Linked DNA regions of Homo sapiens: all the other regions are linked to region 2. The links come from fine-mapping of genetic effects on gene expression. A gene starts in region 2. Each other region holds a variant in brackets. All regions are shown on one strand. Distances are between the middles of the regions.

Region 1 (8,000 bases), 300 kb before region 2:
CAGTATAGATGATATAATTTAAAACAATTGATACTATCAGCTGTCATAAGAACCAAATACTTGGTTGACCTGTGGGTGGCTGACTCATGGGCAATGAAATAAATTTTGTTTTATACGTATAACTTTATATATATGTAACTTTATATATATATAAAAAGTTTGCTTATATATAATATATATACACATATCATATATAAATATATTGTTTATAATATGTAAACAATATATACATAAATAATATATAAAAACTATATATTATATATGTAAACAATATATTTTTAAAAACCAAACTCATGGGTTTATAGTTTTTTCATAGTGAAAACAAACAAATATATAAACAAATATATAGTTTGCTTATATCTATTATATATAAACAATATATAATATATAAAGATATAAATAATATATAATATATAAATATATATTTGTAATATATAATATATAAATAATATATATTTGTAATATATTATTTGTTTATATCCATTATATAATATAAACATATGTAATATATATAATTTATATGAACAATATATAATATATAAACAATATATGTTTTTATATATTATATATAAACATATATATTCATGATATATATGTATGTTTGTTTACACTATGGAAAAACTATAAACCCATGAGCTGGGGTTTTGTCTTTTTTTTTTTGACTTAGGTTTTCTATTCTCAAAGGCATTAATCAGCACCCTTTTTCTCACCCTTTGTTATCAACATATAAGCAGGCTAGAAAGACAGTATTTTATTCCAATGTGAAACAAAACTGCTGATCTGGAGGTCTTATGTTATAAATTCCCACATCATACCTTCAACTATATATATGTCCTGAAACTAGCATATTTTGAGAATAAAATGGTAAATGACATTTAAAGGACACCTATGGTTAATCCTACAGTAAATGAGATAATTTATTTTGAAATGAATGATCAACTCTACGCTCCAAATTTTCACGTAAAAGGTGTTCAGGTGAAAGGAGGCATATTTGCTGTGGCATTTCTGCACACTGCCCCAGGCACTATAGCAAGATAATTAAGACATGGTCCAGTCTTCAAGGGGATTACAATCCCATGGCTAAAAAATCACCTATATAAAGATAATACAAAGAGACAATGATACTTTTTTTTAAAAAAAAAAAGACAGATGTTTCCTGCGAATCAAGAGGAGAAATGCTTTCTATTTACCTGTGGAAATTCAAAGCAAGCCTGTCTGCTCAGAAGATAAGGAGTATAAAATGGCATGCTTCCCTGGGAAGGCTGGAAGGCCACTGCTAAAAAGCTTCCCAGGGACCTTCTTTACCTTGTGACTTCCATTGCTCAGATTCCAGCCTCACACCATGCCTTCTCAGATACCTGACTACTTAATGATTGGTCCTAAGGGCCAATCCAAATGCTCAGTGCTATTATGATTATTATTGCCATCAATTTCTGAGCATTTACCATGTACCAGGCCCTAGGATAGAGCACTCGGTGCATTTTCTCATTTAATCCTCACACCAACTTCATTTTGCAGATGAGAAAACTGAGGCACAGGACATTTATGTAACTTGCCAAGGTCACAAAGACAGTACGTGAGAGTTGGGATTTGGGTTCAGGCAGCCTAGCTCCACAGTCTATGCTCTTACTATGCTCTTCTACTTCTCTTAATAATAATAACAACAACAATAATAATAAACATTTATTAAGAATGTACTTGGTGTCAGCCACTCTATAAGATAGGTACTTCATTCCCATATTAAAGATAAGAAAACTGAGGCTCAGATAGATTAAATAACTTTTCTGAGGCTGCACAATAAGTAAGTAGTGAAGCATTTCCAAAAACATATTCTGAAAAATGCAGATCTCCAAAGAAAAAAGTTTCCATAGTCATTTACATTTGGAAACCATTGCCCCTCTGAGATATCTGTGGTATACATCAGCATATTAAAGTCTCACATGAATGCTTCAGTAAAGAATCCTGATCAGCTTTGGTTAGGCCAGCATTTTCCACACTGGTTTAAACATGGAGCTCTAATTCTTCCAATACCTGTCAATATCCCATAAAACTAGCACTATGCCATGATGGACTGACTCTAACCAGTCTCACTAGACATTAACCAGGTACACTAGGCTAGGAGGTAAAGCTGGAAAGCCAGGTTTTCATTTGCAATGAGAACTAGGATGGATGAGACATACCAATGATACCAAAGAAATACTCGAATATTTCTCCGTCTCCAGCCTTACTTTGCCTTGTAGGTAGAGCTGCTTGGGAAGCCAAGGCAGGACTCATTTCAGGGACACATTATCATGCAGGGAGGGAGGGTAGGAATAGAGAAGGCAAATCCAGGAGTACCAGAGGAGCAGTGCCTTGAACCCCTACATGCAGGCTAAACTCACGTGGCCCCTCACCCAGAACACTGCAACAGCTTCTTAACTGGGTTCAGCTTCCAGCTTTGCCCCTTCCAATCCCTTTTCCACTCTGCCACCAGAAGCAGTTTCAATATATATATAAATCTAATCATGTCAGTTTGCTGTTTCAGATTCTTCACTGGATCCACCATGCAATTAAAACCCAAACTCCTTCGCATGGTCTCCAAGGCTCGTGTGATGAGCAGGCTCCTCCTTACTCTTCCACCGTGGCTCCCACTAGTACATTTCAGCCAACCATCATCTTTCAATTTCTTAAGCAACTATGCACTCTCTTGCCTCAGTCTTCACCTATCCTTCTTTCTCCGCCTGAAGCATTCCTCTCCACCCCCCTTTCCACATGGACAACTGACTCCTCTTTTGCTCACTGCTTATGTCTCACTTCCTTCAGAGAAATTCCTTATTTTCTACCCCCTAAATGTGGGTTAGGGGCTCCTCCCTGATACTCCCCTCAGTTCTCTTTACTTCCTTTGTCAGAGATGTCTGACACTGTGTCATAATTATCTGTCCACATTTTAGCATCTACTGCTGTGCGTTTACTTAGTTAGTAGTTATTAGACAGTTGCCTAATCAACATTTATACCCATGTCTTGAGTGGCAACATAAAATAGCACACTTATAACATTCCCAGAGGACAAGAAGCTAGGGAGAATATTAAATATATTAAATGCATACTTAGGGGTTAAAATGATCTTAAGAGCATGGGACAGTGAGCCAAATTCAATAAGAAGAAATTTAACCCATGCAAAGTCTTAATATCGAACTAAACAGAAGAAAACAATTGCACAAATAAATATAGCCAAATAGCAACATGAGTGGGTGACTTGTAGGGGCCTCAACTGAATTTTGATCCATTGTTGCTAGAAATAACATTAGAATGTGTTTTAAGGGAGGCTGAGGCAGGGGGATTACCTGAGGTCAGGAGTTCAAGACCAGCCTGACCAATATAGTGAAACCCCATCTCTACTAAAACAAAAACAAAAACAAACAAATTAGCCAGGCATGGTGGTGTGAGCCTGTAGTCTTAGCAACTTGAGAGGCTGAGACATGAGAATTGCTTGAACCCGGGAGGCAGAAGTTGCAGTGAGCTGAAATTGCACCACTGAACTCCAGCCTGAGCAACAGAGCAGGACTCTGCCTCAAAAAAAAAAAAAAAAAAAAAAAAGAATGTGTTTTAAGGGTTTTGCTTTATCAGATGCATAATATAAATCAACAGTGAGTTAAGAGTATCCAAGACACTGACAATATCTTGATTTGAAATAATAGACTGTTTATTTTAAAAGATGTAATGGTCTCTTTTTTTTTTTTTTACAGAAAAACCACAACTAGAGTAATGTACTTAATTCCAGAAAATAACACTTCAAAAGAGAAATTGACAAAGTGGAAAATATTCCAAAACAGAGCGTTGGATAAAAGTTCTAGAAATAACTTCTTAAAAACAGTTAAATAGGCTGGATGTGATGGCTCACGCCTATAATCTTAGCACTTTGGAAAGCCAAGCCGGCGGATCACCTGAGGTCAGGAGTTCAAGACCAGCCTGGCCAACATGGTGAAACCCCGTCTCTATTAAATTTTTTAAAAATACAAAAATTAGCGGGGCATGGTGGTGAGTGCCTGCAATCCCAGCTACTCAGGAGGATGAGGTGGGGAGGATTGCTTGAACCCAGGAGGCAGAGGTTGCAGTGAGCCGAGATCGCGCCACTGCACTCCAGTCTGGGTAACAGAGCAAGACTCTGTTTCAAACAAGCAAACAGTTAAATAAATGAAGAATGTTTTACTCAGAAAAAAAAAAAATCCTATGAGCAGTCTTTAAATACCTAGAGAGTGCCAGCTAAAATGAATAAGAGGACTTATTCTATATTTATCTAGAAGTCAGAACGAGGACCCATGGTTAGAAAAATTACAAGGAAGCAGATGTCAGTTTATCTTAAGAGAAGTTTTCAAATAATTAGAGTTGTTTAAAAATGGACTGTTTGCCCTATGAAAAAATGAGTTCCCTGTTCAAATGGAAGCTAGAAGCCCAAGTAGTAGGGCTCTCATGAAAATGTTTCATGCAG[G/C]GTATAGTAGTTCTACCAGATGGCTGAGAAAATGCTATTGCTGTTCTGTGAGATTCTGTAAGGATGTAATATCAGTATATTCCTTCCATTGGTGCTGGTAAACGGAGAACTGATGAAACCCATTTCTAAGGACTTTGGTGTTTAGCTATTTTTAAAAAAAAAACTTTAAAGCCCCTGTGCTAAGAAAGAGGACCAGAGGAGTTGATTGCTAAGCTCCTTTTCAACAGGAACATTTGTGCTCCTCCAGCTCATTCTTGGGCTGGTTTATCACGGGGATTGTGGTCTTAATAAGACCAGAGGACTTAGGAGAAAGGCAGCTTGGAATAGAGAGGTCTAGAGAATTAAACATCTTTAGCTCACAGCATAATGGAAAGAAAGTGCCCTTCAGGGGAACATGTATACAACAGGGTTCTGAGAAGAGGTAAAAATAAAACTGCATCCTGCACTTTCTGCTTGCCGTAATGCTGCAGTCAGGGTAACCCGGGGAGCACCACGCCCTGTGAAATGGCTGTCACAGTTTAGGGGCAGTGAGCCACAGTAAGCCTAGGACCCACTATGTGCCAGGCATAGTGCCAGACCCACTGCACCGTTATCTCATTGAGCCTTCATAGACCTTCTCAGGGTATTAGTATCCTCATTTTAAAATAAGAAAATTCAGATTCTGAAAGGTAAAGTACCTTAACGCAGTAATTTTGACACCTGAGATTCAAACTCAGGATTGCCTGAACTTTGAATTGCTCAGCAGTGTTTCAGGAACTCCTGGACTTTAGGACCGAAGAGGATCTTAAAGAGCCCAACTTCTTGGTTTTGACTATGGAACACAATGGGGTCCAAAGGGACCAGGCATCCTGCACAGGATTTATGTGTGGAGGTAAAGGAAGCCATTCGACTATGGCAGGAGATGCCCCGGCATGGGTACAAGCTCAGCAACTGTGCTTTCTGCGCACATGGTGCTTATAGCCATGAAGGCAAATCATGCATCAGGCAGGGGCAGGGAGGGGGAGGGCAAGAGGCCAGGGCACCCCTGCCGACCCTTCTACCCTCCCACCCCACCTTCTCCCCAATAACTCTTTACAATGCCAAATGCACATGCAGAAACCAGTCTCTAGACTAGATCTTCTAAAGTACAGTGAGGACAGGGAGTTAGGATGACCCCCACTTTCAGTCATCATTCATAGAGGGGAAGGGGAAAAGGGCAGGAAGAGAGCTGACTTTCATGTGTCAGACCCTTTGCTAAATGCTTGCATACGTGTCATCTCATGCCGTCTCCTGTCACATTCCTGTAAGAAGTGGAACATGTTAGGCTATGAAATGAATATTAGTGTCTCCATTCTATGATGAAGAAATGAATTTAAGTCACACATACAAAGTTAGACAACTAAGAAACATGTGATTTACGTTTACACTCCTGATGCCACAAATCAAAAGAAAAACCTGTGAATGTTGGCATCAGACAGTCCAGGTTTTGACTTTTGAACTGGCCCATTAGTAGCTAAGGAAAGCTGAGGATAGTTTCTGTGTCACTGAAAACAATCACACTTATCTCATGGAAATCTTAGTGTCCTTTCTCCAGACCTGCTCCCTCTCTTTCCTGCATTTGAGGGATGAGATCTACTTTTAGAATTACAGAGGGAGGAGGCATTTGACCCTTTTTGAGGTAAAAGGAGAATTTTAGATTAATGGCTAACTTTGTCCTTCGAATGTCCCCTTGAGGCTTTGTCAGATTTGATTCCTTCCTTTGGAAAGATAAGAAAATTGAAGTGGCTATTCCCTGCTTCTGCCTGGTTAGTCACAGAGTGAGGCAGTGACATGATGGGAAGCTTCTAACATAACGAAAACTAGCGTGAGACTGAGAACCTGAAGACTTCAACTCTGGCCCTAGCTTCTCTGTATTTGGATCTCCCAGACAGGCATCCATCTATCCCACAGTGAGTGCCTTGTGGTCTGAAACGAGATCAAAGGTGGAAAAAGCTTTAAAAAGCTCTCTTCAAAAACAAGAATGTCACAAGAGGCTGACTCTCGAGACTGTGTTCCCCTACCCCTGCCTCCTACAGAGTTTCATTCAGCAGACCTTGCTACCTGCCTTCTTCAGGGAAAATAATCTTGTTTTTGAGTTTATGTTTAAACTAAAGTTAGTTGATTATTTTCTTCAACCCTTGTTTTTCTTGTTCATAGAGTTTCTTAATGTCACGAGCGTTCACCTGTTCAAGGAGAGATGGGACACTAACAAGGTGGACCACCACACTGACAAGTATGAAAACAACAAGCTGATTGTCCGCAGAGGGCAGTCTTTCTATGTGCAGATTGACTTCAGTCGTCCATATGACCCCAGAAGGGATCTCTTCAGGGTGGAATACGTCATTGGTGAGTGCCATGTGCAAGCTCCAGTCTTGACACCATGGGTTGCATTGTAGAGAGAGGTGGGTACAGGCACAGTTGTGTGATTTCCTAGTGTCATATGTCAACAGTGGCAGGAGCTGGAATGACATCCAGCCCCTGAATTACCCTGTGCTCTAAGACTGGTCTGTATAGTGCCAAATATTGATAACTTGGGCCCACCCAAGGAGAAAATCTCATATAAATAAAAGTAAAACTGGTATAATGTGTTGCTTAACTAAATTATTCTTCCTCAAACAAATGGTTTTGGCATCCTATGATTCTAACTTTTATCTCCATGATTTAATTGGTCTCGTGCTGAAAATGTTTGTAAATCTTAGCATGCAATCCAAGTATGCATTCCGAAAGTTGATTCTGCTCTGATCTAGTCCCATGGGATGGCCCGTGAAAAATATAGTCCAATAAACTTCACTAAACACTTTGTACTTTAATCACCCTTTTTTTTTTTTTTTTTTTTGAGACAGAGTCTTGCTCTGTTGCCCAGGCTGGAACAGTGGTGTGATCTCAGCTCACTGCAACCTCTTCCTCCTAGGTTCAAGCGATTCTGGTGCCTCAGCCTCCAGAGTAGCTGGGACCACAGTTGCACACCATTACGCCCAGCTAATTTTATGTATTTTTGGTAGAGGCAGAGTTTCACCATGTTGTCCAGGCTGGTTTCGCACTCCTAACCTCAAGTTATCCACCCACCTCAGCTTCCCAAAGTGCTGGGATTGCAGGCATGAGACACCATGCCCAGCCTTTAACCTCCTCTTGAAGATTAACGATGCACATTAGCTTCAAAGGTCTGGGGAAGGACCATTTAACTTTGGTCTGGTGCTTCTTAAATTAATTTGATCATGGAACCCTTTTATTAAGTTATAGCTATTAACTTTTGACACATTTTGGTAAACATTTCTATAGGAATTTATAAGATTATCAAGGAAATACATGCACAGAGAAGCAGGGGTGGCACAACATAGGAAATCTGCCCATATAATCCTATGCACAAATTAAAGGAAAAAATTAGGCAATCAAATCAGCAGTCACAGAAAGGTACATGGTAAAATTCAGCATCCAGTTTTAGGAAGAGTTTAAGGGGAAAAATTTAGAAAAAAAACACCTCAATGATAATAAAGATTGCTTACATCAAAACAAC
Region 2 (8,123 bases):
TCTTTAAAACAAAATTGGTTTGGGAAGTTCTTAAGCTCTTGAGACTAATTTTTGTGAGTTTGTAATTTGCTCTTTCATTTACTCTAACATATTACTTTACAGACAAAAGTTTTTCATTAATTCTGATTAAATTTATTAATCTTTTTCAATTCATGCTTTTTAAAAGGTTTAAAAATATTCACCTGAGTGCTTCACTTCATATTTCAAAGCTTTACTTTGAATATTTAGGTCCTTAACCCACCTGGAGTTGATTTTTTTTTCAAATGATTTATTTTGAAATGACTTTCAACCTAAAGAAAAAATGCTGGAACAATGCAAAGAACCTGCATACCCCTTTAGCTAGATCGTCATCAGTTAGTAACATTTTGCTACATGTATTCCGTTGCTTTGTATTTATCCCCATTAGCAATATTCCTTTTTCCGAACCTTTTGAGAGCAAGCTACAGGTATGATGTCTTGTCACTCTAAAAACTTTAGTATATGTTGCTCCAAACAAGGACAATTTTTTCTATAATCAGCATACAATTCCCCAATCAGGAAATCAACATTGGTGCAAAACTAATGCCTAATTCACAGACTTCACTGAAATTTTACTGGCTGTTCCAACAACATCTCTGTCTTTTCTTGTCTAGAATCTTATCCAGGAATACAGGTTGCATTTAGTTGTCATGCCTCTTCCAGTTGTTTCAGTGTGAGTGGGGACCACATAGGCATTCCCTTTGTCATAAGTCAATGAATTGTGCATGCTTGTTTTGTGCATTGTTCCGTGTGTATATTTCATGATAAAAACGTTGATTTGTTTTAAATAAAGTGTTTATTTTTAAGATGGAAGTTAATCACACTTCTACATTTCAAATTTAGCATTTGCTCCTAGATTTCAAATTACTGCATTCAAATCAAGTTCAATTTTTAAATTTTTTTTTTTTTTTTTTTTTTTGAGACAGAGTATTGCTGTGTTCCTCAGGCTGGAGTGCAATGGCATGACCTCAGCTCACTGCAACCTCTGCCTCCAGGGTTCAAGTGATTCTCCCGTCTCAGCCTCCCAAGTAGCTGGGATTACAGGCGCCTACCACCATGCCCGGCTAATTTTTGTATTTTTTGTAGAGATGTTGACCAGTCTGGTCTTGAACTCCTTACCTCAGGTGATCCTCCTGCCTCGGCCTCCCAAAGTGCTGGGATTACAGGTGTGAGCCACCGCGCCCGGCCAGCAAGGCCTTGAAGTTTCAACTAATTTTGTAAAGAGTCTCAAGATCAGAGAGTGAAAAAAATCACCTTACCAAGCCACAGATGCAAGGGTAGACCCAGGCCTCCCGAAGTAGATTTTTACTGGGGCCTCTACCAATGTATATACCTCCACAAAAATCTCCTTCCTCTCGTAATCTATATGATTGTTTAAATACAGTATAGTTATCATTTTAATGAAAAGTTATGTAATATAAATTCACATTTTTATTAAAGGTTTTAGCTGAAGATATTTAAATGACTGACTAAATTTATGAGAGAGATGTATTGCTAGACCAATCTATTCTAATAGAGCAGCGATTTTTTCTGACCTAGAATACAAAGATGGGATTTCCTAGTGGCCTTGACAACTGCTCTTGCAAATAATTTCAAAGGGTTGTTTGTCGAGGTGGCAGCTTCTGGAAAGCCGACCTATGATGGATTCATAGCAGGAGCTGGGGAATCAACTGGCATACTGCTCATCCAGACTAGGGCTGTAGCGCCATGAAACGAGAAAGGAAGTTGGTGCCCACCAGGCTTAAAATTAGACATAGTCTCTTTCTGGCCGTTCTAGGGATAAGGAATTTTGCATATTTATTACCTTAATTATGCAGACTTACTTTTGGGAGTTACTTTGGCTCAATTCAACATGCAGACCCAAACAGCACCTGTGACTTTTTCCCTCTCCTGAACTGTATTTGTTTCTTTAAACAAAATTGCTTATCAAAAAGAAATACGTTCTTTGCAAGAAGTTGGCTTATAAAAAGCACTCTTGCACGGATTTTATTCTTCGGATTGTGCGTTTCCACTCCTAATCCCATTCACAGAATTCTAGAAAATCCTCAGTTCACAAAATTTCAAAGGTGAAAACAGCTTTGGAAATTACTTCATAGTCCACTCTCCTTCATTTTCCAAAGTGTGGGGGTCAGCCTGTGAGCTGGGTTTCCCTGCCCCTGTTCACTGCTCTTCCCACTGCATCTTCAACCCCAAGTATGATGTGAGATGAGCTTTTCACATTAATAAAAGAGGGAACGTTCTCCAAAGCCACCTCCAACCATGGATGCTACCGTTCCCAGACAGCATGCATTGACAACCATGAAATGCAATATCCTTTAATTAAAGAACTACGAAGAATCAACCCTGCATGGAGCCTGGACTGCAGAACGACCTGTAATTTAAAAGATGAGAATTTTTCAAAAAATAAAATGTCATGTGCATCTATCTACCCAGAAAATCATTTATGTAGAGTACCAACTCTGTTTGCCTCTCTCTTCTTCACTTTTAAAAAGACTCAGGCCTATGAGGGAGGTTGGGACGCCTGGGGAGGAAAATGAAGAGAGGAAAAAGTCAGCGGGGGTTCCCTCCCGGGGTAGGGCGGTGAGGCGCAGCCACGTCCCAAGGGCAAGAACCGGATCGGCCCGGGGCGCGGCGCGGGCGGCTGTGCGCACGCGCGTGGGTTCACCCGCTTCATTGAGGCCCTCAGCCCTGCCTACTCCACATCCCCAGCGCCCCACGCTCAGAGTTACAGGGGAGGGGTTGGAGAGGATCCCAGAAAATGATGCTGTGAAGATCCCAGGTGGATAAGCAGGAGGAAGGCAAGGACGTTGAGGGCAAAAAACCTTAAGCCACTCCCAAGCCTGGGCTCTGCACGAGTCTGAGCGAGGTTGGGGGCCCGCAGCTGGTGGCCTGGTCCGGGAAAGCTGGGCCGGCCCCACGCGGAACCCCGAGCGAGGGGCGGAGCCGTGGGCCGGGCCGCGTGGCAACCCCCCTGAGGCCCCGCCCCTCGGAAAGCCTCCCGCCCTGCCATTGGAAGACGTCGGGGGAGGGTCCGAGAAACGCCCCCCTCTCGCCACCAGCCCCCGCCCCACCCCTTGTCCGCCCACGTTTTCGGTTCTTCCCGGAGCCTCCGAGCTCGGGGAAAGGAAACACCCGGGGCCGCCACCGTGCCCCTGGACACCGGAAGGCGAGCCCCCAACCGCCCCGCCCGCAGGCCGGTGACATAACCAGGGGCGGGGAGACATGACTCCGCCCCCAGGGCCAGGAAGGCTGCATGGGAGTCTGAGGCTCCCGCGGGACGTGAGTTAGGGGCCGCACATTGCAGACACCTCACGTCACCAAGTGCTGCAGTAGGACCCCCGCAGCTTCCCCTCGGCCCCCTACCCTCCACAGCCTGTCCTACCCCCGTTATTTTGCACCTTTCTCCCCCTTTGTCTATGCATCTCCAAATATCTGAGTATGGGGACGGCAAGATTGGCCCTAGAGGGCAAGCTGCCTGTAGAAGCAAATTCAACGCTTCTCCTTAATCCGTGTGCATTTCTACAGTTTGACAGCTTGACGTCCTCTAGTGTAGTTTGGCAAAATTTGGGGGGTCGTTTTCATTTTTTTCTCTCCACAGGCTTAAGGATTAAAGCTGGCCAATGCCTTCTTTAGCATTTTATTAAAGACGCTACAATTTAGACTTTTTTTTTTTCTGTTTGGTGCAGAAGAAAGGAAGAAAACCAGAGCTTAAAGGCGTTTAGAAAGGAAATAGCCCTGTTAGTTTTTCGGTTTTGACTCAAGCTGTCGTCGATAGCAGCTTGCACCTAGCACAAAGCCAGCTGCAGAAGTATTTTGTTGCAGGGTAGGCTACACCTACACAGGGTCTGTGCCTGAGCATCAAAAGACAGTGCAGGTGTGTGTGGGTCCGGGTGTGCGTGTGCGTACGTGATGTACGTGTGTGCGTGTGGGTACGTGTGTGTGTAGCCCAACAAATAAGCCCAAGAGGCGCATCAAGATTAGAAAGAAGTCCGCACACCAGCGCTTGCCTTGGAAATTTCCTAAAGCGCTGAGAGTTGGTTGGTAAATCACTAGTATCCGAAAACTGTCTTATCAGAGGCTCCTTCCCCGGTGCCCTACTCGCCCCCTAAAACAGGTGTCGCTGTGTCCCTTGAAGCGGCCTTTGGCCCGCTGGGGCATCGCAGGTGGGTAAAATTCAGAGGACATTCGGTGTTTATTTCTGGGGCCCCACGTGTGCAAACCAAACCCCCGGGGCCTGGGCGTGTGCGCGCGCTCGCGTGCCTTGTGTGCGGGCGGGCATGGGGGCGCTCGGCGCGGCTGGCGGGCGTGCGCGCGCGCGTTTGTGTGTGTGTGTGTGTGTGTGTGTGTGTGTGCTCGTGCGGGGGGCCGGGCTGCGTGCTCACGCGCTCCAGGCTGCGCCCAGAGCTCAGCTGCTGGGTTGGAGAAAAAGAGGGTAGGCAAGCGCAGGGGGCGGGCGGCCGAGGAGCGCTTTCGAATTAATCGAGCTAGCTTAGCTGTTTTTCCCTCTCCCGCTCCTTTAAACCCCCCTGCATCGTAGAGAGCGGGCTGGATTCTCTGTGGTGCTGATGGAGGAGGGGGAGCAGGTTGAAACAATCGAGTGGGCGCGCCAGGACTCCCCAGCTCCTGGCGGGGAAGGGAGGGGGAGCCCCTGTTCTGCGCAGGGAGGCGGCGGGGCTGGGGGGCCCCCGGAACGAGGAAGAGGCAGGGGTGACCGCTAGAATAGGAAAGTGCTCACCCCCGGGAGGCAAAATTTCGTTCAGATCGCACATTAATTGGAGATATCTGATTAATTCCAGCTTCTGATGACTATAAATGGCGATTCTCTACCAAGGTGTCTATATTAAAAAAAAAATCATTCCGTGTCATCCCCCACGTCAGGCCTGCTCGTGGGCGTGAGGCTGTACTTCCTCCGCCCCCTTCTAATGGAGTGAACCATTCCCAGCTCTCCCCCCCCCCTCAGCCTCTCTCTCTCTCTCTCTTTCTCTCTCTCTCTCTCTTTCTGTCTCTTCCTCGCTCCCTCTCTTTCTCTCCTCCCTCTGCCTTCCCAGTGCATAAAGTCTCTGTCGCTCCCGGAACTTGTTGGCAATGCCTATTTTTTGGCTTTCCCCCGCGTTCTCTAAACTAACTATTTAAAGGTCTGCGGTCGCAAATGGTTTGACTAAACGTAGGATGGGACTTAAGTTGAACGGCAGATATATTTCACTGATCCTCGCGGTGCAAATAGGTAAGTGGCCGCTCAGCCCGGCTGGAGGCTGGAGGCGGGAGGCAGCCTGCCCCGGCCCGAGGCGCGGAGGGGGACTAGCGGGTCCGCGGCCGCCCCAGGGTGCGGAGAAGCCGGCAATCCCCCGAGGGTGGGGGCATCAGTTCCTGGGGACTAGCGCGTCCCAGATCGGTTTTTCCTAAAGCTATAGATTCCAAATGTTCGCCAGGAAATGTGTGCGGCCGGACATTTTCTGGACACGGTTTTTTTCCCCCTTTTTCCTGAGCACACATCCATTTTTGTTTCCCTTTCTGGGTTTATACCAGGTTTGGTGCGCTCTGGGGCAATGTACTGGCCCCTGCGATACTGCAAGATATGATTTTGAAGAGTCGAAATGTGAATGCAGGAATAAAATGGCTAGGCAGCCAGGACTGGAAAGTTTATGTGCTGAAAGCAAAGATATTCCAGGGCTCAGACTGCTGCATTTAGAACTTTGTCATTCTCCCGCCCCTCCTCCCCCCTATATCCTAGCTGCAGCGTTTGCACGGGCACCGCAGACCCGGCTGGTGGGCAAATCGAGAGTGATAGGGAACTTCAGACCACATATTTTAACATGCTTACCATTGAAGAGGATGAATTCAGCCAAATTTACGTAGATATACTTTTCTAGATGCATTTGCCTGCTACTTTACACATTGGTGTCTGCATTTTATATATAGGAAAGGGTTAAGAAGTGTTTGGAATATGTCATGTCGGGTGTTTGTTATTTTTGTTTGTTTGGGATTGGTTATGGAAGGAATTATTTAGTCCCCATTTTATGTTAAGGAATGTTGAGTTGTAGTTACGCTGTCAGGGGTCTTTTTAAAGTTCACATTTTTACCATCCAGAATGAAGAAAAGATATAGAAGAGGGCACTAGAAAACCCCCTTCTCCGACACTGGGTCAGAACATTAATTAACGTGGCCTAAAAGTGAAAGTGAAGCAGGTTATTAATAGAATGGACAACACGGGGGAAAAAAGAAACTCCTGAAACGGAATTGTTACCTCCTATCAGTTCAGGCTGTGGCATTCTTTGCAGACAAATCCTTGCAGTATTGGGGGAGGGGGTGCTTTAGGTAATTGGTTTGGGGCAAGAAAGGAGAATGCATAATATGTTTTTTCCATAAGAAATGTGAAGGAAACAAGGTTTGGAGTTCTCTAGACCTTAAAATGGATTCTTTGCAGTGGGGTTTTATGCAACTGACATGATTTTGAGATTTTATAATGCAGAAACATTATAAAGATTTTAGAGTGTGTGAGTGCAGGATATTGGTGTTTTCCTTTAGTTCCAAAAAATGACAATGCTTTAAATCTGGTTGTTTTGAATCTTTGACATTAGTGAAAAGAGCTGCTGTAAATAATATTTCTAATGGCAGCAAATTCCTTAAATGTTGGAAATAAGTGAATGTGGCATTTTGCAATAAACCTTTGAATTTTTAGAGAGCAGGAGAGAGAGTTGTTTTTGAGATAGAAATTTTAATCGGACAAGATTTGGGACTCTGTTTTCCCGGTAGGAAATAACCTTACTTTGAGAGGTTTGGAGGGAAAAAAAAGACGGTGGTCGTGCCTGAGGGACGCGTTTTGAACACATTAACCTCGGTCCAAAAATGACTATTTGTTGACTGTGGAATTGAAATTGAACGTATTTGTTCCCTAATGTCTGCCCTTTCCTGCAACAGAACCTCGGTCTTTATTAATTCACGGCTGGGAGCTGTCCCAAATCATTGACATTTGGCAAGAAAAGTGGGGGTTGGGAGGGGCGGGGAGGTAGAAGAGTGTGGTGAACACGAAAGAAGACGCAGCAGGAGGAAGTTCGGAATGAATGAGAGGTCGAACGAATGAATGAACGGATGGAAACCGCACAAGAAGGGGACGGCAGAGAGGACAGGGAAGGAGCCAGGGTCACCCGCTAGAGTCTCGCCTAAGCGGGGTTCAGGAAGGACAGCGAGGGACCCACGGGCTGCGACCTGCTGGGACGCGTGCGCCTGCAAAATCCGTCCCGCGCGCAGCCTCCCGGCCTCCCAGAGAAGGCTAGAGTCCAAGGAGTCACAGTTTTAAAAGACAGAAATGTTCACGACTTATTTTACACAGCACACACTCACACATGCGCGGTGTGCAGGGTCTTCTCCAGCAGCGCCTGGGAAGATAACGTGACAAGAGCGCTCCCGCCCCCGGCGAGCCCCAATTCCCCTTAAAAAATGTCAATGCATTTTAGGGGCTTCTTTCGCCACTGAGTTTTGGGGGTGTAGGCAAGGGGTGGGGAGAGACGTGGACGGGGAGATTGGACTTTATTTTATTTCGTTTCTTCTCTGCAAAGCTGTATTTGTGACATGCGTTATAGAGGAAGATGTGTGGAGTGTATTTCCATTTTGAACGAGCTCTATCAGAACAAAGATTCGTTTATTCTTAAGATTTTACGTCAGTGTTCGATTTGTTAGTATTGTAGTCGCAAGGGTATTTAATGTTCGCTGTAAGGTGAACTCGGAGGTTTGAGAAGGTTTACGTATCTGCCCCAGCGGAGGTCGAAGTTAACCTCGGTCCCTTCCCCAGTGCTTCCCGTTCCGGATTAAAAAGCGCAAGGCCCGCCTCGCTCTTCCTGCAGCAATTTGCAAACGGGTACGCTCTCGGAAGCTGCTACGGGTTCGGTCACCTTCCTCTTCGGCGTCTGGCCCGGCGCTCGCGGACAGGCGCCCGCGTTGGGGGCCGGGGGATTGAGGTGTCCGGTCCTCCCGGGACACATTCACACACAAGCGCAGCCGCCAGAAAGCTGCCGAGGACCAGGCCGGCGCCCAGGGTCGTGGGCGCCAGTGCGGATTTCGATTCTGAGATTCACCCTTTCTTCCCCGCCCTAACGCTGTGCTTCTCT
Region 3 (8,143 bases), 26 kb after region 2:
AAGTTAAGTCACAGAGATGGTGTCAGAGTCAGGTCCCAATATGATAGCCTGGCTTCAGAGGCCGTGTGTTTACCATTCCATTATCCTGCCTCTCACTTGCTGAACCTATGCCCAAAGTTTATTAGAAGAGATGAACAACACAAAAAGGAACTAGAGAACAGGCACTGTAGAAACCCAACTCCTGAGCTACAGGGCCAACCTTAGACTCAGCTTGTCCAAATGTTGACTGACAGACAACCCATTAATTCCTTTAGAAAAACCATGGTTTATTGAATATCTGGTGCTCTTTTTCTGAAATTCTGGAAGACCCTTCTAACTCTGGAAATATCCTCTGCAAACCAAGTGTGGAGGAGGGTTAGCAACCAGTACTCAAGAAGGACTTATGCATGTGAGAGCCATGTGCTTGGGCAGTAATGAGAGTCCATGCAGAACACTAAAATTAGGGTGCAGTTTCCTGCTACCCTATACTCAGGCTGAACACATGGAGCTGATCATTTCAACAAGCTTGCCTAGCTTTTCCTTTTGATGGAGAAACACAGTGGGAAAAGATTGGTTCTTCAGAAATTTCATTCCAGTGTCTTTGACAACTTCATTTTTTTCGTTTTTGGGGGATTTATCTTGTTTTTTAAACAGCAGGTGATTTGCACCATTTTGAAATAATCAGTGCCTTTCTCATCATAGCTTGAGAGAGACTAGGTTAAAGAACTAGAGAGAGGAGCCCAGAGGGTATGGAATGCATCATGCAGTAGCACCAGACTCTTCTATCAATTACCACGTTTTCTGAAGGTGGTGTTTCATTCTTGGAAGTTTCCAAGTTGGGCCTGCCTGTTAGGTTTTAAAAGGAGCAGAAGGATAATAGTGGTGCAAACGGCTTTACAAATATTTTTGATGGCAGATCTGCAATATCTAGGTCTCACTGAGTCAAATACCAGAAGCACTGATGCTTCTTGCCCACCCTTTCCAGTGGAGGGAGGAAGGGCCCTGCTCCACTTCGACCAGAGCAGTCAGCAGCCTCTTCAGGACGTTGCTGGGTGCTGGGTTGCATTGTACAAGGCTACCCAAAGTGGGTCCAATTCCTGTCCTCTTGGAGGGGCATCTGAAGCAGAGAACATTGACATGGGAACATAAAGAATGACATAGCTGTAATTATGTAAGCTTAATATAAGACACTGGTTTTCATGTAGTTTATGAAAATAATGTTCATTGTTTTATAGTCATCCCAACTACAGACTTGCATAATAAACCAATCAGCATTCCCTTTGCTATATTTTCCCTTGTTCATAGCCACAGGAGAAAAATTGGGATCCCCTAAGTAAAAATAAAAAAGACCTATTATTTTGATGACCATGGTCTCTGCGTGGTTGTGGATGAAGGGGTGAAGAAAAAGAAATTATTACACAATAGCCTTTCTCAAAATGAATGGCTTGTTTTAAACAATGTGTTTTTCTTGGCAAGTTCAGAGCTACTACAAAACAACCATCACTGCTGAAACCTTGCAGAACCAGCAGGAGCGAGTTATCTTCTCTTGCTCAAGGGACACGCCAACTGTGAACTCTTCCCTCCTCACCTCCTGGCAGGGAGATGGGTAATTCCAAAGCTCATATATACCCCAAAGTAGCCTTTTTAGGTTTTGTCCCTCTCCCTTTGGGTCTTTTATAACACAGCTGTCTACATGAAGAGAAGAAAGTCAGCACCAAGCTGATGGACTCTAAGTGATCACAGATACAAAGAGACAGTGGTTTCTGAGTAGGTGCAATGTTATGAAACAGGGTGAAAACTATCAAGCACAGGTGGGTGTCTGCTACTGAGAGGGACTGCAAAGAGCCGAGACAGCCCATCAGGGTAAGGATCATTTGCTCTTTCTATAATGTGTCTCTCCCTACTTGATCCAAGGCCTGCCTTTTTCTCTTACCCCACTGTTTACCTGCTGTTTCTCTGCCTTGCATGCCCCACGCTCATTTAGCCTTCATGCCTTTGAACTCATTATTTCCTCTGCCTCTCCCCAGAGTCTTTGTGTGGAAGGCTCCTTCCTGTCATTTTGTTTCAACCTCAATGCCACCTCTTCGGAGATACCTTCTCTGACCTTTCATTGTAAAGTGATAGCCACCTTCTCCCGGAAATCCTCCCAGCAAACAGGCACTATCACATTGCCTGATTTTGTTTCATTTACAGCATTTGACACTTGCACAACTAAAAAAAAATTGCTTTATAACATTGCTTCATACTCTAAGTTTCGATTCCCTGGGCAAAGCTGGGCCCTAGGCCTTGGGCAGACAGTCTTCTGTGCAGTTTTCTGTCTCCTAAAGGTCTTGAGTGGTCACCTCCAGCCTCTCCCCTGCTCCCCTCTGCCTTTGCATCACTACAGTTCCACATCCAGATTTTATCTTCACCACTCAGCTCACATCTTGGTCTCTTTCTTTTGAAGGTGGAGTCTTGCTCTGTGGCCCAGGCTGGAGTGCAGTGGCTCGATCTCAGCTCACCACAACCTCCGCCTCCTGGGTTCAAGCGATTCTCCTGCCTCAGCCTCCCAAGCAGCTGGGATTACAGGCATGTGCCACTATGCCCAGCTAATTTTGTATTTTTAGTAGAGAGGGGGTTTCTCCATGTTGATCAGGCTGGTCTCAAACTCCCAGCTTCAGGTGATCCACCCCCCTCAACTTTCCAAAATGCTGGAATTGCTGGTGTGAGCCACCGTGCTCAGCCAACATCTTGGTCTCTTTTGCTCTTAACAGTAAGCAGGCCTCGATATAGGACCAAGAAGCAAGTGCTGGGCACCTCCAGAGGATCCCATGTGGCTGCCCTCAATCATCCAGAAGAGCAGAAAGTAAGCTGATACAAACCACGTTCTTCATGGCCTGCGATGGGGCACATGAACCCATGACTGCATGAGTAAATGTCGCCGCAGGGCTCTGTGTGGAGTGTGACTGGGGGGGTGTGGATCCTTAGCAAAATGAATCAAGAGGCAAACTTTGCCTGTGATGGCAACACCACTCAGGTCCCCCACTTCTCCTGTCTTTGGGGTTGACTTGCTCCAGTTGGAAAGCAGCTTCCCTGAAGCTGCTTTTCCTGCCCTTTCTCCCCCAGGAAGCTGACGGGAGGAGGAAAATGAAGTATCTGATGCAGGGCTAAGGTTAGACAGAAAACATAAGAACAAGGAGGAAAAGAAGCCCTCTGAGACTCTTGGGTGAGGACATTGAGGGACAGAATATATATTTCTAGGGTCCCTAGTTGGCATTCGGAACATTTTTCCCCATACACCAGTGTTTCTTAACCAGAGGTAATTGTGTTCCACAGGAGACATTTCGTAATGCCTGGAGACAGTTTTGCTTGTTACATCTGAGAAGGGGGTGCCACTGGCATCCCTGAGTAGAGGCCAGGCATGTTGCCGCGCATCCTACAATGCACAGGACAGCCCTTGCCACAAATAATTGTCTGTCCCAAAATGTCAGTAGTGCCAAGGTTGAGAAACTATATCATAGAACAATGATGTATTTGGTAATTTTGCTTAATAACTCAACCATAGTGGCTTAAATAGGTTTTGAAGATTTCCTGTATTTATTCATTTATTTATTTTGACAGGGTTCCCCTCTGTCACCCAGGCTAGGATGCAGTGGCACAACACAGCTCATTGCAGCCTTGAACTTCCAGGCTCAAGTGATCCTCCCACCTCAGCCTCCTGAGTAGCTGGGACTACAGGTATGCACCACCACACCTGACTGATTTTTAAAATTTTTATAGAGATGAGTTCTCGCTATGTTGCCCAGGCTGGTCTCAAACTCTTGTGCTCAAGCAATCCTCCCGCCTGGGCCTCCCAAAGTGCTAGGATTACAGGCATGAGCCACTAAGCCCGGCCAAGCTTGACTTTAATATCTCGCTACATGTCTCTACTAGAGAGTATCTTTTAAGCTTCACTTGGTCAAATAACAGTAATTACATGGCTCACACATAGCAGGTACATACATCACTTTGTTCATTTCCTTCACAGCACTAATCATAAAGGGGAACAACCTTTTAAATTTGCTTAATTAATAGCTTTCTGCTCCAACTAGGATACAACCTCCTAGAATATTGCCTGATCTAGAGTAGACACTCAATAAACATTTGCTGAATGAATGAATTCAGACAGTTAGCTACTGCCTGTTTCTTCTTATAGGCAGAAGCCATCTCTCGTGTATGTGTCTATATCTATAGCAGCTAGCGCAGATTTTTATATATACAGAAAACTCAACAACTGATCTCTGAAACCATGAATCAAGGCGTGTGAATGAATAAATGAGTTAATTAATATATAAATGAACAGGCAAACAGTACTAATATTCCTATGTCCACTGTGAAAAAATTAGTAAGCATGCATGCTACTACAGAGGATATTTCAGAATGCATGGTGAGTTTAAGGGCCTTGTTCTACGCTCCAGCTTCCTCTCTGTAGAACTTTCTCCCCGG[G/A]AGTCAGGTGAAGAGTACAGATTGAGTGCTAGAGACAGTGGTTTTCAGCAGAACTCTGAACCTAAGCTAAGGAAGTGATGACTCCTCTCCCTTCCTAACTATTTTCTAAGAATGTTTTGGCCCTCTGCCATCAAAGGATGAATGCTACAAGTAGTGTAAGTTAGTAATATGGCGAGTGTGATGATTCAAATGGCTCAAAGGAGGCAAAAAAAAGTCTTTGTTGCACAGTTCTCTTTCCTATTCTTTTCTATAAATAGCATGTTGATTTTTAAGAGCTGCCAGATTTTATAAACTTCTTTTCCAGAGTGATTTATTAGTGTCAAGCATTACTATCATCCTGTAGTTCTAAACTCCTCTCCTGTGGGCAGTAATTTAGCCCTAGTTTTTTCTCTGTGATAAACCTTTGCATGATTCGTGAGTCTCTAATTAGGGATCATAGTTTCCTTGCAGGTCTCTGCAAAGAAACAGCCAACAATCTCAGGTTAAGAGACTCAACACAAGAGAGAAACCAATTTTGCAAAGTGTCCCAATAATGTCTCTCATAGAACTTTTTCTCCCTGAGCCAGGATCCAAAATAGTGTCATGCATTGCACGTAGCTGTCATGCCTCTTTAGTCTCCTTTAATCTCGAACAGCTGATGGGGGCATATTTGCAGCGAGTATCCATTAAAAAATACTTACACTCTCCAGATACATCAGCTTGGTTAATTGGAAAGCTCTTTAATAATTGTTTTAGTACATAAAATTAAGAGTTTCCACAAGAATAATTAATCATACAGTATTTTATAATAAGAAATATTTATATATCAACTGACTACGGAATTTCAACTTGCAAAGCACATAAATGGATTTTTCACCCTGAGTTACATCTAAAATGCTTACCTATATTTGAAAGTGATGGAAAGCTGGTGAGTAAATATTCCCCTATTCTGTTCCTTGGGTGGACAATTCTGAGACACATTCTACACATTTTCTAAGAAGGTTCTGGCAGCATTGAGATGCATGTGCTCACAAAGGTGTCAGTCTCAGTCTGTACGGGCTGCTATGACAAACATGCCACAGCCTGGGTGGCCAGCATAGTCAGGTTCTGGTGAAGGCTCACTTTCCTAATTCTAAGACAATGTTCTTGTTGTGTCCTCACATGGCAGAAGGGGAAGAAGTGAGAGAGATATTTGGGGTCTCTTTTATAAGGGCACTAATCATTTTCATGAGAGCTCCACTCTCATGACCTAATCACCTTGCAAAGAACCCACCTCCTAAGACCATCACCTTAGGGGTCAGGATTTCAACATACACATTTGGGGGATCACAAACATCCAGTCCATGACAGTGACCAAATTAAGAGCTCACCCTTGCAAGGATCCAAGAAGGAAGACAAAAAAAAAAAATCAGTTAAAAGAAAAATATGATAGGAAAGTTGAAAGACATTGAAAATTGAAAGACATTGAAAATTGAAAAAGATTCACTCATGGAAACTCCAGAAGGAGAGAACAGAGAAAATAGGGGAAGTAATTGAAGAAATAAAATAAAATTTCCCAAGCTGAAGAAAAGCACCAGTTGTCAGATTGAAAAAGCCTGCTGAATGACATCTCCAGAGAGAAGAAAGCCAGTTACCTACAATGAAAAGAGACAAAAAATTGGCATCGCGCTTCTCATGTCAACATGGATATTAGTCAACTATGTGGCAAACCATGGCAATAGTTCAATGGGTTGGTGGTGAAACCCTGTTGTTGTTTTGTTTTGTTTCATTTTTGAGATAGGGTTTTGCTATATCATCGAGGCTGGTCTTGAACTTCCTGCCTCAAATGATCCTCCCCCCTTAGCCCTTTCATGTATTTCCTTCTTGGAGAGAGCTGTGTCTTCATTTTTCTCTCCCTGATTGTTGTAGCAGTCTGGAGTTATCTTAAGCTCTGCTTTTCTATTCTAGGCCCCTACACCAGGACGCCTTAAGGGAAGGAAGTTTGCTTGCTTCAGAGTGTAGTTCTCCACTTTTAACCTGGGATCAAACACGTGTGTTGTGTGTATAAACCAGGAGACAGGAGAGAGATGGTTTCTGGGCTGTCCTCTCTGACCTGATGCAGCTGTTTATGACTCACTAGAAGCATTGCTCCATGGCTACTTCTCTTCTTGTTCCATTTGTTCTCTCTAAGTTTGGAATTTCCCCAATTGGCCTTTCACTCACGGGTGTGTCGGGATGTAGTTTTCTGTTCACGCCTGTTATCAGTCTCCTCTCATTCATTTCTATCTTCTTTCCAGGAATGTCTCGAATTTCCTGGTCTTTTAATGGTGGTTTCATTTCATGTTTTCCTAGAATGCTGTAAATGTATTCTTTCTAAAATATAGCTTTTTATTTTAATAGATTCAGGATTGGAGGGAAGGTGAAAGCTTGCACTGTTTGTCAACTAGATCTAATATCATTCATGTGTATATATATGTATATCTGTTTTATATTTTTATTTTGTGTACTATAGAAAAATTATATTGTGAAACATACATTAATAAATTGCATTGTATGTGTTATTTTATAATCTCTTTTTCACTTGGCATTATACTTTTAACACTTCCCTATAGAAAGACTTCATTAAATTTTTCTCAAATGTAAAGGACAACACCATGGGTAAATTTAACACATAACCAGAAATAGGACACTAAATTTAGGAGCTGTTAATTAACTAAATTGAAAAATGCGTGATATATTCTTTTTCTTTCTTTAATGCCAGATCTTAAAATGTTTGGATCTTATCCAACCAAAAAATTGATCAGATTATCAATGTATTTGTTAATTCAGTTGTTCTGAAGTCCAGTTGTTTTAGTTGCTTAATGGCCAGTTATATGCAAGAATCCAGTGATACAAGATCAAACATTTATTCTGGCTGGGTATATTTTTTGAATTTGGCTATATTCGTAACATGAAGTGAAGATGCAAAGAAATTGCACAAACATCTCTGTTAGAAAATGTCTGTGTGGAAAAATCAGAACACATGGACTGTGTGTATAAATTTGAAAGCCTAGGGAAATGAAATAGCAGGCAAGTGAGAAAACTCCTTCTCCTCTCCTGGAGACTTTTTCCCCCACTCTGAAAAAACAGGAAAAATATATAATCTGAACCCTCTCCAAAAGATCCAGAAGAAAGGATATACAACAAGGAAAAGCAACTTACATTATAGTTGATGACTCTAAGAAAAAAAGGGAGCGCAAGGAATAAAATAATGACATTGAGACTCTGAGCAAAACTCAGTGGGGAAGGGTAATAATGTTCTTTGAGAGTGTGCTAAAATATAAAGGAATTCTCCAAGAAATGGCAATCACTGAAGCTCTTAAATATCACAAGCATAAGGCTAGAGACTTTACAAGAATATCTTTCTGATTCACAGAGGAGCTCACTCAAAGTTCTAAAGAAAATCTCTAGCACCACCACCCCCCACCTCGATTAATGAATATCTTTGAGGTAGGCAGAATAATGGACCCACAAATGTGTCTCCTTTTTTTTTTTTTTTTTTGACACGGAGTCTTGCTCTGTTGCCCAGGCTGGAGTGCAGTGTCGCAATCGTGGCTCACTGCAACCTCTGCCTTCCAGGTTCAAGCGATTCTCCTGCCTCAGCCTCTTGAGTAGCTGGGATTACAGGCACACACCATCACGCCTGGCTAATTTTTGTATTTTTAGCAGAGACAGCATTTCACCATGTTGGTCAGGCTGACCA
Region 4 (8,143 bases), 19 kb before region 2:
CAAACGCGTGAACTGCAGCGGCCAGGCGTTCCTGGGGAACCTCCTCCCCCAGGAGCTTACTACAAGTGCCGGAAATCTGACCACCAGGCCAAGGAATGCCCACAGCCCAGGATTCCTCCTAAGCTGTGTCCCATCTGTGCGGGACCCCACTGGAAATCGGACTGTTCAACTCACCTGGCAGCCGCTCCCAGAACCCCTGGAACTCTGGCCCAAGGCTCTCTGACTGACTCCTTCTTGGCTTAGCAGCTGAAGACTGACGCTGCCTGATTGCCTTGGAAGCCCCGTAGACTATCACGGACGCCGAGCTTTAGGTAACTCTCACAGTGGAAAGTAAGTCCGTCCTCTTCTTAATCAATATGGAGGCTACCCACTCCACATTACCTTCTTTTCAAGAGCCTGTTTCCCTTGCCTCCATAACTGTTATGGGTATTGACAGCCAGGCTTCTAAACCTCTTAAAACTCCCCAACTCTGGTGCCAACTTAGACAACACTCTTTTATGCACTCTTTTTTAGTTATCTCCACCTGCCCAGTTCCCTTATTAGGCCGAGATATTTTAACCAAATTATCTGCTTCCCTGACTATTCCTGGATTACAGCTGCATCTCATTGCCGCCCTTCTTCCCAATCCAAAGCCTCCTTTGCGTCCTCCTCTTGTATCCCCCCACCTTAACCCATAAGTATAAGATACCTCTACTCCCTCCTTGGCGACCAATCATACACCCCTTACCATCTCATTAAAACCTAATCACCCTTACCCCGCTCAATGCCAATATCCCATCCCACAGCATGCTTTGAAAGGATTAAAGCCTGTTATCACTTGCCTGCCGCAGCATGGCCTTTTAAAGCCTATAAACTCTCCTTACAATTCCCCCATTTTACCTGTCCTAAAACCAGACAAGCCTTACAAGTTAGTTCAGGATCTATGCCTTATCAACCAAATTGTTTTGCCTATCTACCCCATGGTGCCAAACCCATATACTCTCCTATCCTCAATACCTCCCTCCACAATCCATTATTCTGTTCTAGATCTCAAACGTGCTTTCTTTACTATTCCTTTGCACCCTTAATCCCAGCCTCTCTTCGCTTTCACTTGGACTGACCCTGACACCCATCATGCTCAGCAAATTACCTAGACTGTACTGCCGCAAAGCTTCACAGACAGCCCCCATTACTTCAATCAAGCCCAAATTTCTTCCTCATCTGTTACTTATCTCAGCATAATTCTCATAAAAACACACGTGCTCTCCCTGCCAATCGTGTCCGACTGATCTCTCAAACCCCGGCACCTTCTAGAAAACAACTCCTTTCCTTCCTAGGCATGGTTAGCGCAGTCAGAATTCTTACACAAGAGCCAGGACCACACCGTGTAGCCTTTCTGTCCAAACAACTTGACCTTACTGTTTTAGCCTAGCCCTCATGTCTGCGTGCAGCGGCTGTCGCTGCTTTAATACTGTTAGAGGCCCTCAAAATCACAAACTATGCTCAACTCACTCTCTACAGTTCTCATAACTTCCAAAATCTATTTTCTTCCTCATACCTGACGCATATACATTCTGCTCCCCGGCTCCTTCAGCTGTCCTCACTCTTTAAGTCCCACAATTACCATTGTTCCTGGCCTGGACTTCAATCTGGCCTCCCACATTATTCCTGATACCACACCTGACCCCCATGACTGTATCTCTCTGATCCACCTGATATTCACCCCATTTCCCCATATTTCCTTCTTTCCTGTTCCTCACCCTGATCACGCTTGATTTATTGATGGCAGTTCCACCAGGCCTAATTGCCACACACCAGCAAAGGCAGGCTATGCTATACTACAAGCCACTAGCCCGCCTCTCAGAACCTCTCATTTCCTTTCCATCGTGGAAATCTATCCTCAAGGAAATAACTTCTCAGTGTTCCATCTGCTATTCTACTACTCCTCAGGGATTATTCAGGCCCCCTCCCTTCCCTACACATCAAGCTCGAGGATTTGCCCCCACCCAGGACTGGCAAATTAGCTTTACTCAACATGTCCCGAGTCAGGAAACTAAAATACCTCTTAGTCTAAATAGACACTTTCACTGAATAAGTAAAGGCCCTTCCTACAGGGTCTGAGAAGGCCACCACAGTCATTTCTTCCCCTCTGTCAGACATAATTCCTCAGTTTAGCCTTCCCACCTCTATACAGTCTGACAACAGACCAGCATTTATTAGTCAAATCAGCCAAGCAGTTTTTCAGGCTCTTAGTATTCAGTGAAACTTTTATATCCCTTACGGTCCTCCGTCTTCAAGAAAAGTAGAACGGACTAAAGGTCTTTTAAAAACACACCTCACCAAGCTCAGCCACCAACTTAAAAAGGACTGGACAATTACCCCTTTGCTTCTCAGAATTCAGGCCTGTCCTCAGAATGTTGCAAGGTACAGCCCATTTAAACTCCTGTGTAGACACTCTTTTTTATTAGGCCCCAGTCTCATTCGACACCAGACCAACTTAGACTGTGCCCCCAAAAAACTTGTCGTCCCTACTATCTTTTGTCTAGTCATACTCCTATTCACCGTTCTCAACTACTCATACATGCCCTGCTCTTGTTTACACTGCTGGTTTACACTGTTTCTCCAAGCCATCACAGCTGATATCTCCTGGTGCTATCCCCAAACTGCCACTCTAAACTCTTGAAGTAAATAAATAATCTTTGCTGGCAGGACTACGCTGAATCTCCTTAGGCACTCTCTAATCAGATGTCCTAGGTCCTCCCAATTCTTAGACCTTTTATACCTGTTTTTCTCCTTCTGTTATTCCATTTAGTTTCTCAATTCATCCAAAACCGTATCCAGGCCATCACCAATCATTCTATATGACAAATGTTTCTTCTAACATCCCCACAATATCACCCCTTACCACAAGATCTTCCTTCAGCTTAATCTCTCCCACTCTAGGTTCCCACACCGCCCCTAATCCCGCTTGAAGCAGCCCTGAGAAACATCGCCCATTCTCTCTCCATACCACCCCCCAAAAATTTTCGCCGCCCCAACACTTCAACACTATTTTGTTTTATTTTTCTTATTAATATAAGAAGGCAGGAATGTCAGGCCTCTGAGCCCAAGCCAAGCCATCGCATCCCCTGTGACTTGCACGTATACGCCCAGATGGCCTGAAGTAACTGAAGAATCACAAAAGAAGTGAAAAGGACCTGCCCCACCTTAACTGATGACATTCCACCATTGTGATTTGTTCCTGCCCCACCTTAACTGAGTGATTAACCCTGTGAATTTCCTTCTCCTGGCTCAGAAGCTCCCCCACTGAGCACCTTGTGACCCCCACCCCTGCCCACCAGAGAACAACCCCCTTTGACTGTAATTTTCCATTACCTTCCCAAATCCTATAAAACGGCCCCACCCCATCTCCCTTCGCTGACTCTTTTCGGACTCAGCCCACCTGCACCCAGGTGATTAAAAGCTTTATTGCTCACACAAAGTCTGTTTGGTGGTCTCTTCACATGGACGCGCATGAAACTTGCCACTGAGGCCAAGAATGTTCTCTGGTTCTGCCGAATCTGAGATGGAACCTCTGTTGATTGGTCAGCTTTGTTATAACATTGTTTACGACCTATTGCTTAAGACGTATTTCTGGGATGCAACCAGTTTTCCTGATAGCTGATATTTGTTTATTTACCTCTGCATATATTTATTTAATATGACATAACTTTGGCATTATATTAAAAGAAGGAAGGAAGGAAG[G/A]AAGAAAAGATGTTTCCGTGTGGTCAGGCTGAAAGGGCATTGGCAACAATTCACTGTATTTCATAGAATGGCAGAAATTTGAGTAAACTACTGGTCAAATCATATCACCCTCACCTTCTCTCCATTTTATTCCTTGAGTTTCCTAAGGCACTCAATAAGACAGATCCTACTTCCCAACACCAATATTATTGAGGAGTTCGCTTTAAAGGAAAATGAAATATACACATTAATGAAACTACTACTTTTCCATCAAAATGTCATTGTTACCACCACTGAAGAGGATTACAAATGGCACCTTAAGGTTAGGCTCAGTTCAAGGCAGATTATAACTAGTAACTATCGGCCACAGGCTTTTGGTACATTTTATCATGTTTTGTGGTTTAACGCCAAACAATTAGGCCAAAGGGTGCAGGGAGTTAAAGCTCAATAAAGATCTGGGAGTCAAAGCAGTCATCTGTCCTTTTACTTTTCTGCTAATTAATATTTAATTGTTGTTTAGAGGGTATGTAAGTGGAAATAGCCATTTCCTTCCTGTGATCATCCTAGCAATGGTAGTTACTTCTCCACGAACAGAAACAAGAATTTCCTTTTAGCTGCTTGCCTGTGAATAAAGCCTCATTTATACATGCCAGCCAGTATGCTTCTAAAAGACTATGTAAGAATTTCACTTTAGCTAAGTTACTTATCTAAAGAAATAAACATTAGACTTTGGGTAGCCTTTGCTAAGACATTTGTTCCCATAGCTAAAGTTTTCTGCAATTTACAGTTCCTTGTGGTTTCATAATTTAGAGATCAGTTTATGGGGAATATATCCAAATCAATTTACTTATGCACTTACAATTACTGAAATGCTCCACCTTTCCAACAATACAAGGAAATACTTGCTTTCCTAGTATTTCTCATTTTTTTCAACAATACTAGGAAATGCCTAGTTTCCTACAAAGATTAAAATTCCCTAAACACTAGAGTTGAATACAAGCTTTATGTTTTAGAATTTCATCATGTTTGTGAGGATCCCCCCAAAATATACATTTTTCTCCTTTCTTAAACAGAATATAATATGTATATAATACTTTCCTCGGTTATCGGAAAGGCTGCCAACACTTACTACAGGTAGTTCTGGGGAGGACTAAAGGGAAATAAGAGACCAATTGCATTCAAAACTTGAACCCTTTCATGGAAATCACACAGTCCACCTTTGGGATTTATCATACCCCTTCTCATTCAAGTTTATAAAGTCTCTGGAGAGAAAGACATCCATTCCAAATCTCAAATCCTCAAACACCCATCCCCTGCCACACAAGCTCACAAAAAGAATATGCGGAGGAGTCACCAAGGAAAACCACTCTGCTTATCATAATTAGGCAAATGAGCAAACCCAATCCCCCCAGAGGAATCAGGTAGATACAATAAGATAAATAAGGGAAATGCTTGTGTGTAGAGAAAGAGGGAGAGTTCCACTTGTGAGGTACTGGAGAGCACATTGTCTAAAGGGGGAAGCTGCTGCTCACCTCCAGCTCACTGGGGCCAAGCAAGATTGCAGGTCCCCTTGCTGCCAGCTTTTCTGACTTTACAAGAGCAGCTAGGAGTACACATCTTTATGTAACAAGTCCCTGTTATTTAAATAGTATGCGGAATAAACAAAAGCTGTCTCAGCTCAAAGGTGAACTGCGGGCTGTCTTTTATCAACACCTAGTGAAAGGCATCGGACTCAGGCTCTTATATAAACACGAATTCTTGTGAATGAAACTCATCAACTGAGTGAAGCCACGCACAAGCCCCAAAACTTCCATTTGGTGCACCTGGACCAAATTTTGTGTTAGAAATATTGATATCAATCCCAATCAGTCCTGTGGGTCCAGCCTCCTAATGTCTCAGAAATCCATCAACTTCTTTCCATTTTCACAGTTACCACCATCCTTAGATGAGAGAAAGACATTTATTCCAAATCTCAAATGCTCAAAGACCCATCCACTACCACAAAAGCTCACAAAAGGAATATGCGCCTGCCACCTCTACAGCTTCCTGCACGGATGCCCTGTGACCCACCCAGTCCATGCTCCCCAGAGCTATTCATCGATGCAGACCTGTGTCTACCCTCGTGTGACACTGGCCTCCTTTGAAACTCTTCCATGGCTTCCCATCACTCCTAGAATAAACTTGAAACTCCTAAGGTGAGGTGCAAGAGGCCCTGCTTCTGTGCCACCTGGTCTTGTCCCTGTGTCCCCTTTGCTGTCCTCCTCACTGGCTGGGCTCTTTCAGACTCTCACATGTGCAAGCTCCTTCCCACCACAACTCCCTGTTTGTTACAGGTTTTATCTTTTCCTGGAATGACCTTCTCTTGGCTCTCTGCCCATTTTTCCCCTTTTTCCTTCAGGTTTCAATGTAAATATCATCTCTCCTTGGAGAAAACATCTATGATCCCCATAGTTCACCTCTGTATCTACCTGGTTCCTCTGGGGGGATAGGGTTTGCTCATCTGCCTAATTATGATAAGCAGAGTGGTTTTCCTTGGTGACTCCTCTGCATATTCCTTTTGTGAGCTTCTGTGGCAGTGGATGGATGTTTGAGTATTTGAGATTTGGAGTAAATTGTGTCCATCAAAATGATATGTCGAAGTTCTAACCCCGGTACCTGTGAATGTGATATTATTTGGAAATAGGGTCTTTGCAGATGAGGCCATTAAGGTGGGACCTATTCCAACGTGACAAAAAAGTGGAAATGTGGACACACAGACAGACACAGACAGACACACACACAGGAGGAATACCATGCGAACATGAAGGCAAAGATGAGGGTGATGCCGCTACAGGCCAAGGAACATCAAAGACTGCCAAGAGTTACCAGAAGCCAGAAAGAGACCTGGGACAGATTGCTCCTCACAGCCCTCAGAAGGAAAGGACCCTACTGACACCTTGATCTTAGACTTTCAGCCTCCAGAACAGTGAGAGAATAAATCTTTGTTGTTTGAGCCACCCAGTTAGCGGTGCTTTGTTATGGCAAGCCTTATGAAACTGATACAACCACCCAATCTAAAGTAGGTTCCTCCCGTTAGTACTTCTTTCTCATACTTTGAGAAGGCATGAGCGCCTGTTACAGTTTGTATTACTCACTGGTTTGTTTACCTGTGTCAAATACTTCTCTCCTACCAGACCATAAGAAGCACGAGGTCACAAACCATGCTCATTTTGTTCACCTCTGTATGCCTGGACAGCACCAGTCCTGCTCAGTAACAGCCGTTTTCATTCCATGAATTGTGCTTTAATACTTCACACTCCTTTTGGTTTTTGAGATGTGTGGGCAAAACTAAATAGTCCCAGATTGCTGGCCTGATACTTACTACTCCTTCTGCACTCTCAGAATCATGGAACTGTAGTGCTAGAGAGACCCCGGAAATCAGTTAGCTACCCACCACCACCAGCCCCCACTGGTTTTTCAAATGAGAAAATTGTGCCTTCTCCATATGCAACCAGCTCTCACTTCCTACAGCTGTCAGTCACTCCTGCTGCTGAACAGCAACACTGTATTGGCTCCAGCTGCTAAGCCTGAGGGTCCAGAGGTGGCTTCCCCTCACCTGCAGAAGTAAGCACATGACTCTGTGACAACTATTCGCTGCTCAATGGCATTTCTGCTTTATTAGAATAATAGAATTTTATGCCTCAAAGAGTCCTGTGACGTCATCTGAGAAACCTCATCCCCTTATTTAATGGAGTAGGAAAAGTCTCAAGTCATATACACTTTAAAAGTAGTAAGACTGTGGCCAGGCACAGTTGCTCATGTCTGTAACCCCAGCACTTTGGGAAGATGAGGCAGAAGGATCGCTTGAGCCCAGTAGTTCGAGACCAGCCTGGAAAGCATGGTGAAACCCTATCTCTACAAAAAATAGAAAAATTAGCAGGGTGTGGTGGTGCATGCCCGTGGTCCCAGCTACTCAGGAAGCTGAGGCAGGAGGATCGCTTGAGCCCCGGAGGCAGAGATTGCAATGAGTCAAGATCACACCACTGTACTCAATCCTGGGTGACAGAGTAAGACCCTGTCTCAAAACAATAAAGATTTTTTTAAAAAGTCACAAGATTGGGCTGGGCTTGGTGGCTCATGCTTGTAATCCCAGAGCTTTGAGAGACCACAGTGAGAGGATCACTTGAGCCCAGAAGTTCAAGACCAGCCTGAGCGACATAACAAGACATCATCTCTAAAAAAAAAAAAAAAAAAAAAAAAAAAAAAAAAATTTAAGTAGCCAGGAATGCTAGCACCCACCCATAATCCCAGCTACTCTGGAGGCTGAGGCAGGAGAGTCACTTGTGAGCTGCGATTGCACCACTGCACTGCAGCCTGAGTGACAGAGTGAGACCCTGTCAAGAAGGGAGGAAGGAAGGAAGGAAGGAAGGAAGGAAGGAAGGAAGGAAGGAAGGAAGGAAGG

Evidence for each region. PIP is the estimated chance that this variant, and not a neighbour inherited with it, causes the effect.
Region 1: its variant is the best candidate, but not a certain one, in a credible set for the expression of NRN1 in whole blood (INTERVAL, PIP 0.60).
Region 3: its variant is the best candidate, but not a certain one, in a credible set for the expression of NRN1 in monocytes (TOPMed, PIP 0.63).
Region 4: its variant is the best candidate, but not a certain one, in a credible set for the expression of NRN1 in lung (TOPMed, PIP 0.74).

Annotation. Positions count from the first base shown.
Region 1 is chr6:6,304,183-6,312,182 of GRCh38, reverse strand. F13A1 (coagulation factor XIII A chain) reads left to right here. Exons shown (of 15, transcript NM_000129.4): 3 at 6,644-6,832. The region is part of intron 1 of LOC124901253 (a long non-coding RNA gene); the gene reads right to left. Among named protein-coding and RNA genes, the nearest start is that of F13A1, 12 kb to the left of the region's middle. The variant G/C (reference allele first, on the strand shown) is at 4,469.
Region 2 is chr6:6,003,814-6,011,936 of GRCh38, reverse strand. NRN1 (neuritin 1) reads left to right here and starts at 5,012. Exons shown (of 3, transcript NM_016588.3): 1 at 5,012-5,242. The coding sequence starts at 5,188. RefSeq lists a silencer at 2,962-3,081 and an enhancer at 7,548-8,123.
Region 3 is chr6:5,978,225-5,986,367 of GRCh38, reverse strand. No RefSeq gene overlaps it. Among named protein-coding and RNA genes, the nearest start is that of NRN1, 25 kb to the left of the region's middle. The variant G/A (reference allele first, on the strand shown) is at 4,444.
Region 4 is chr6:6,023,163-6,031,305 of GRCh38, reverse strand. No RefSeq gene overlaps it. Among named protein-coding and RNA genes, the nearest start is that of NRN1, 20 kb to the right of the region's middle. The variant G/A (reference allele first, on the strand shown) is at 3,724.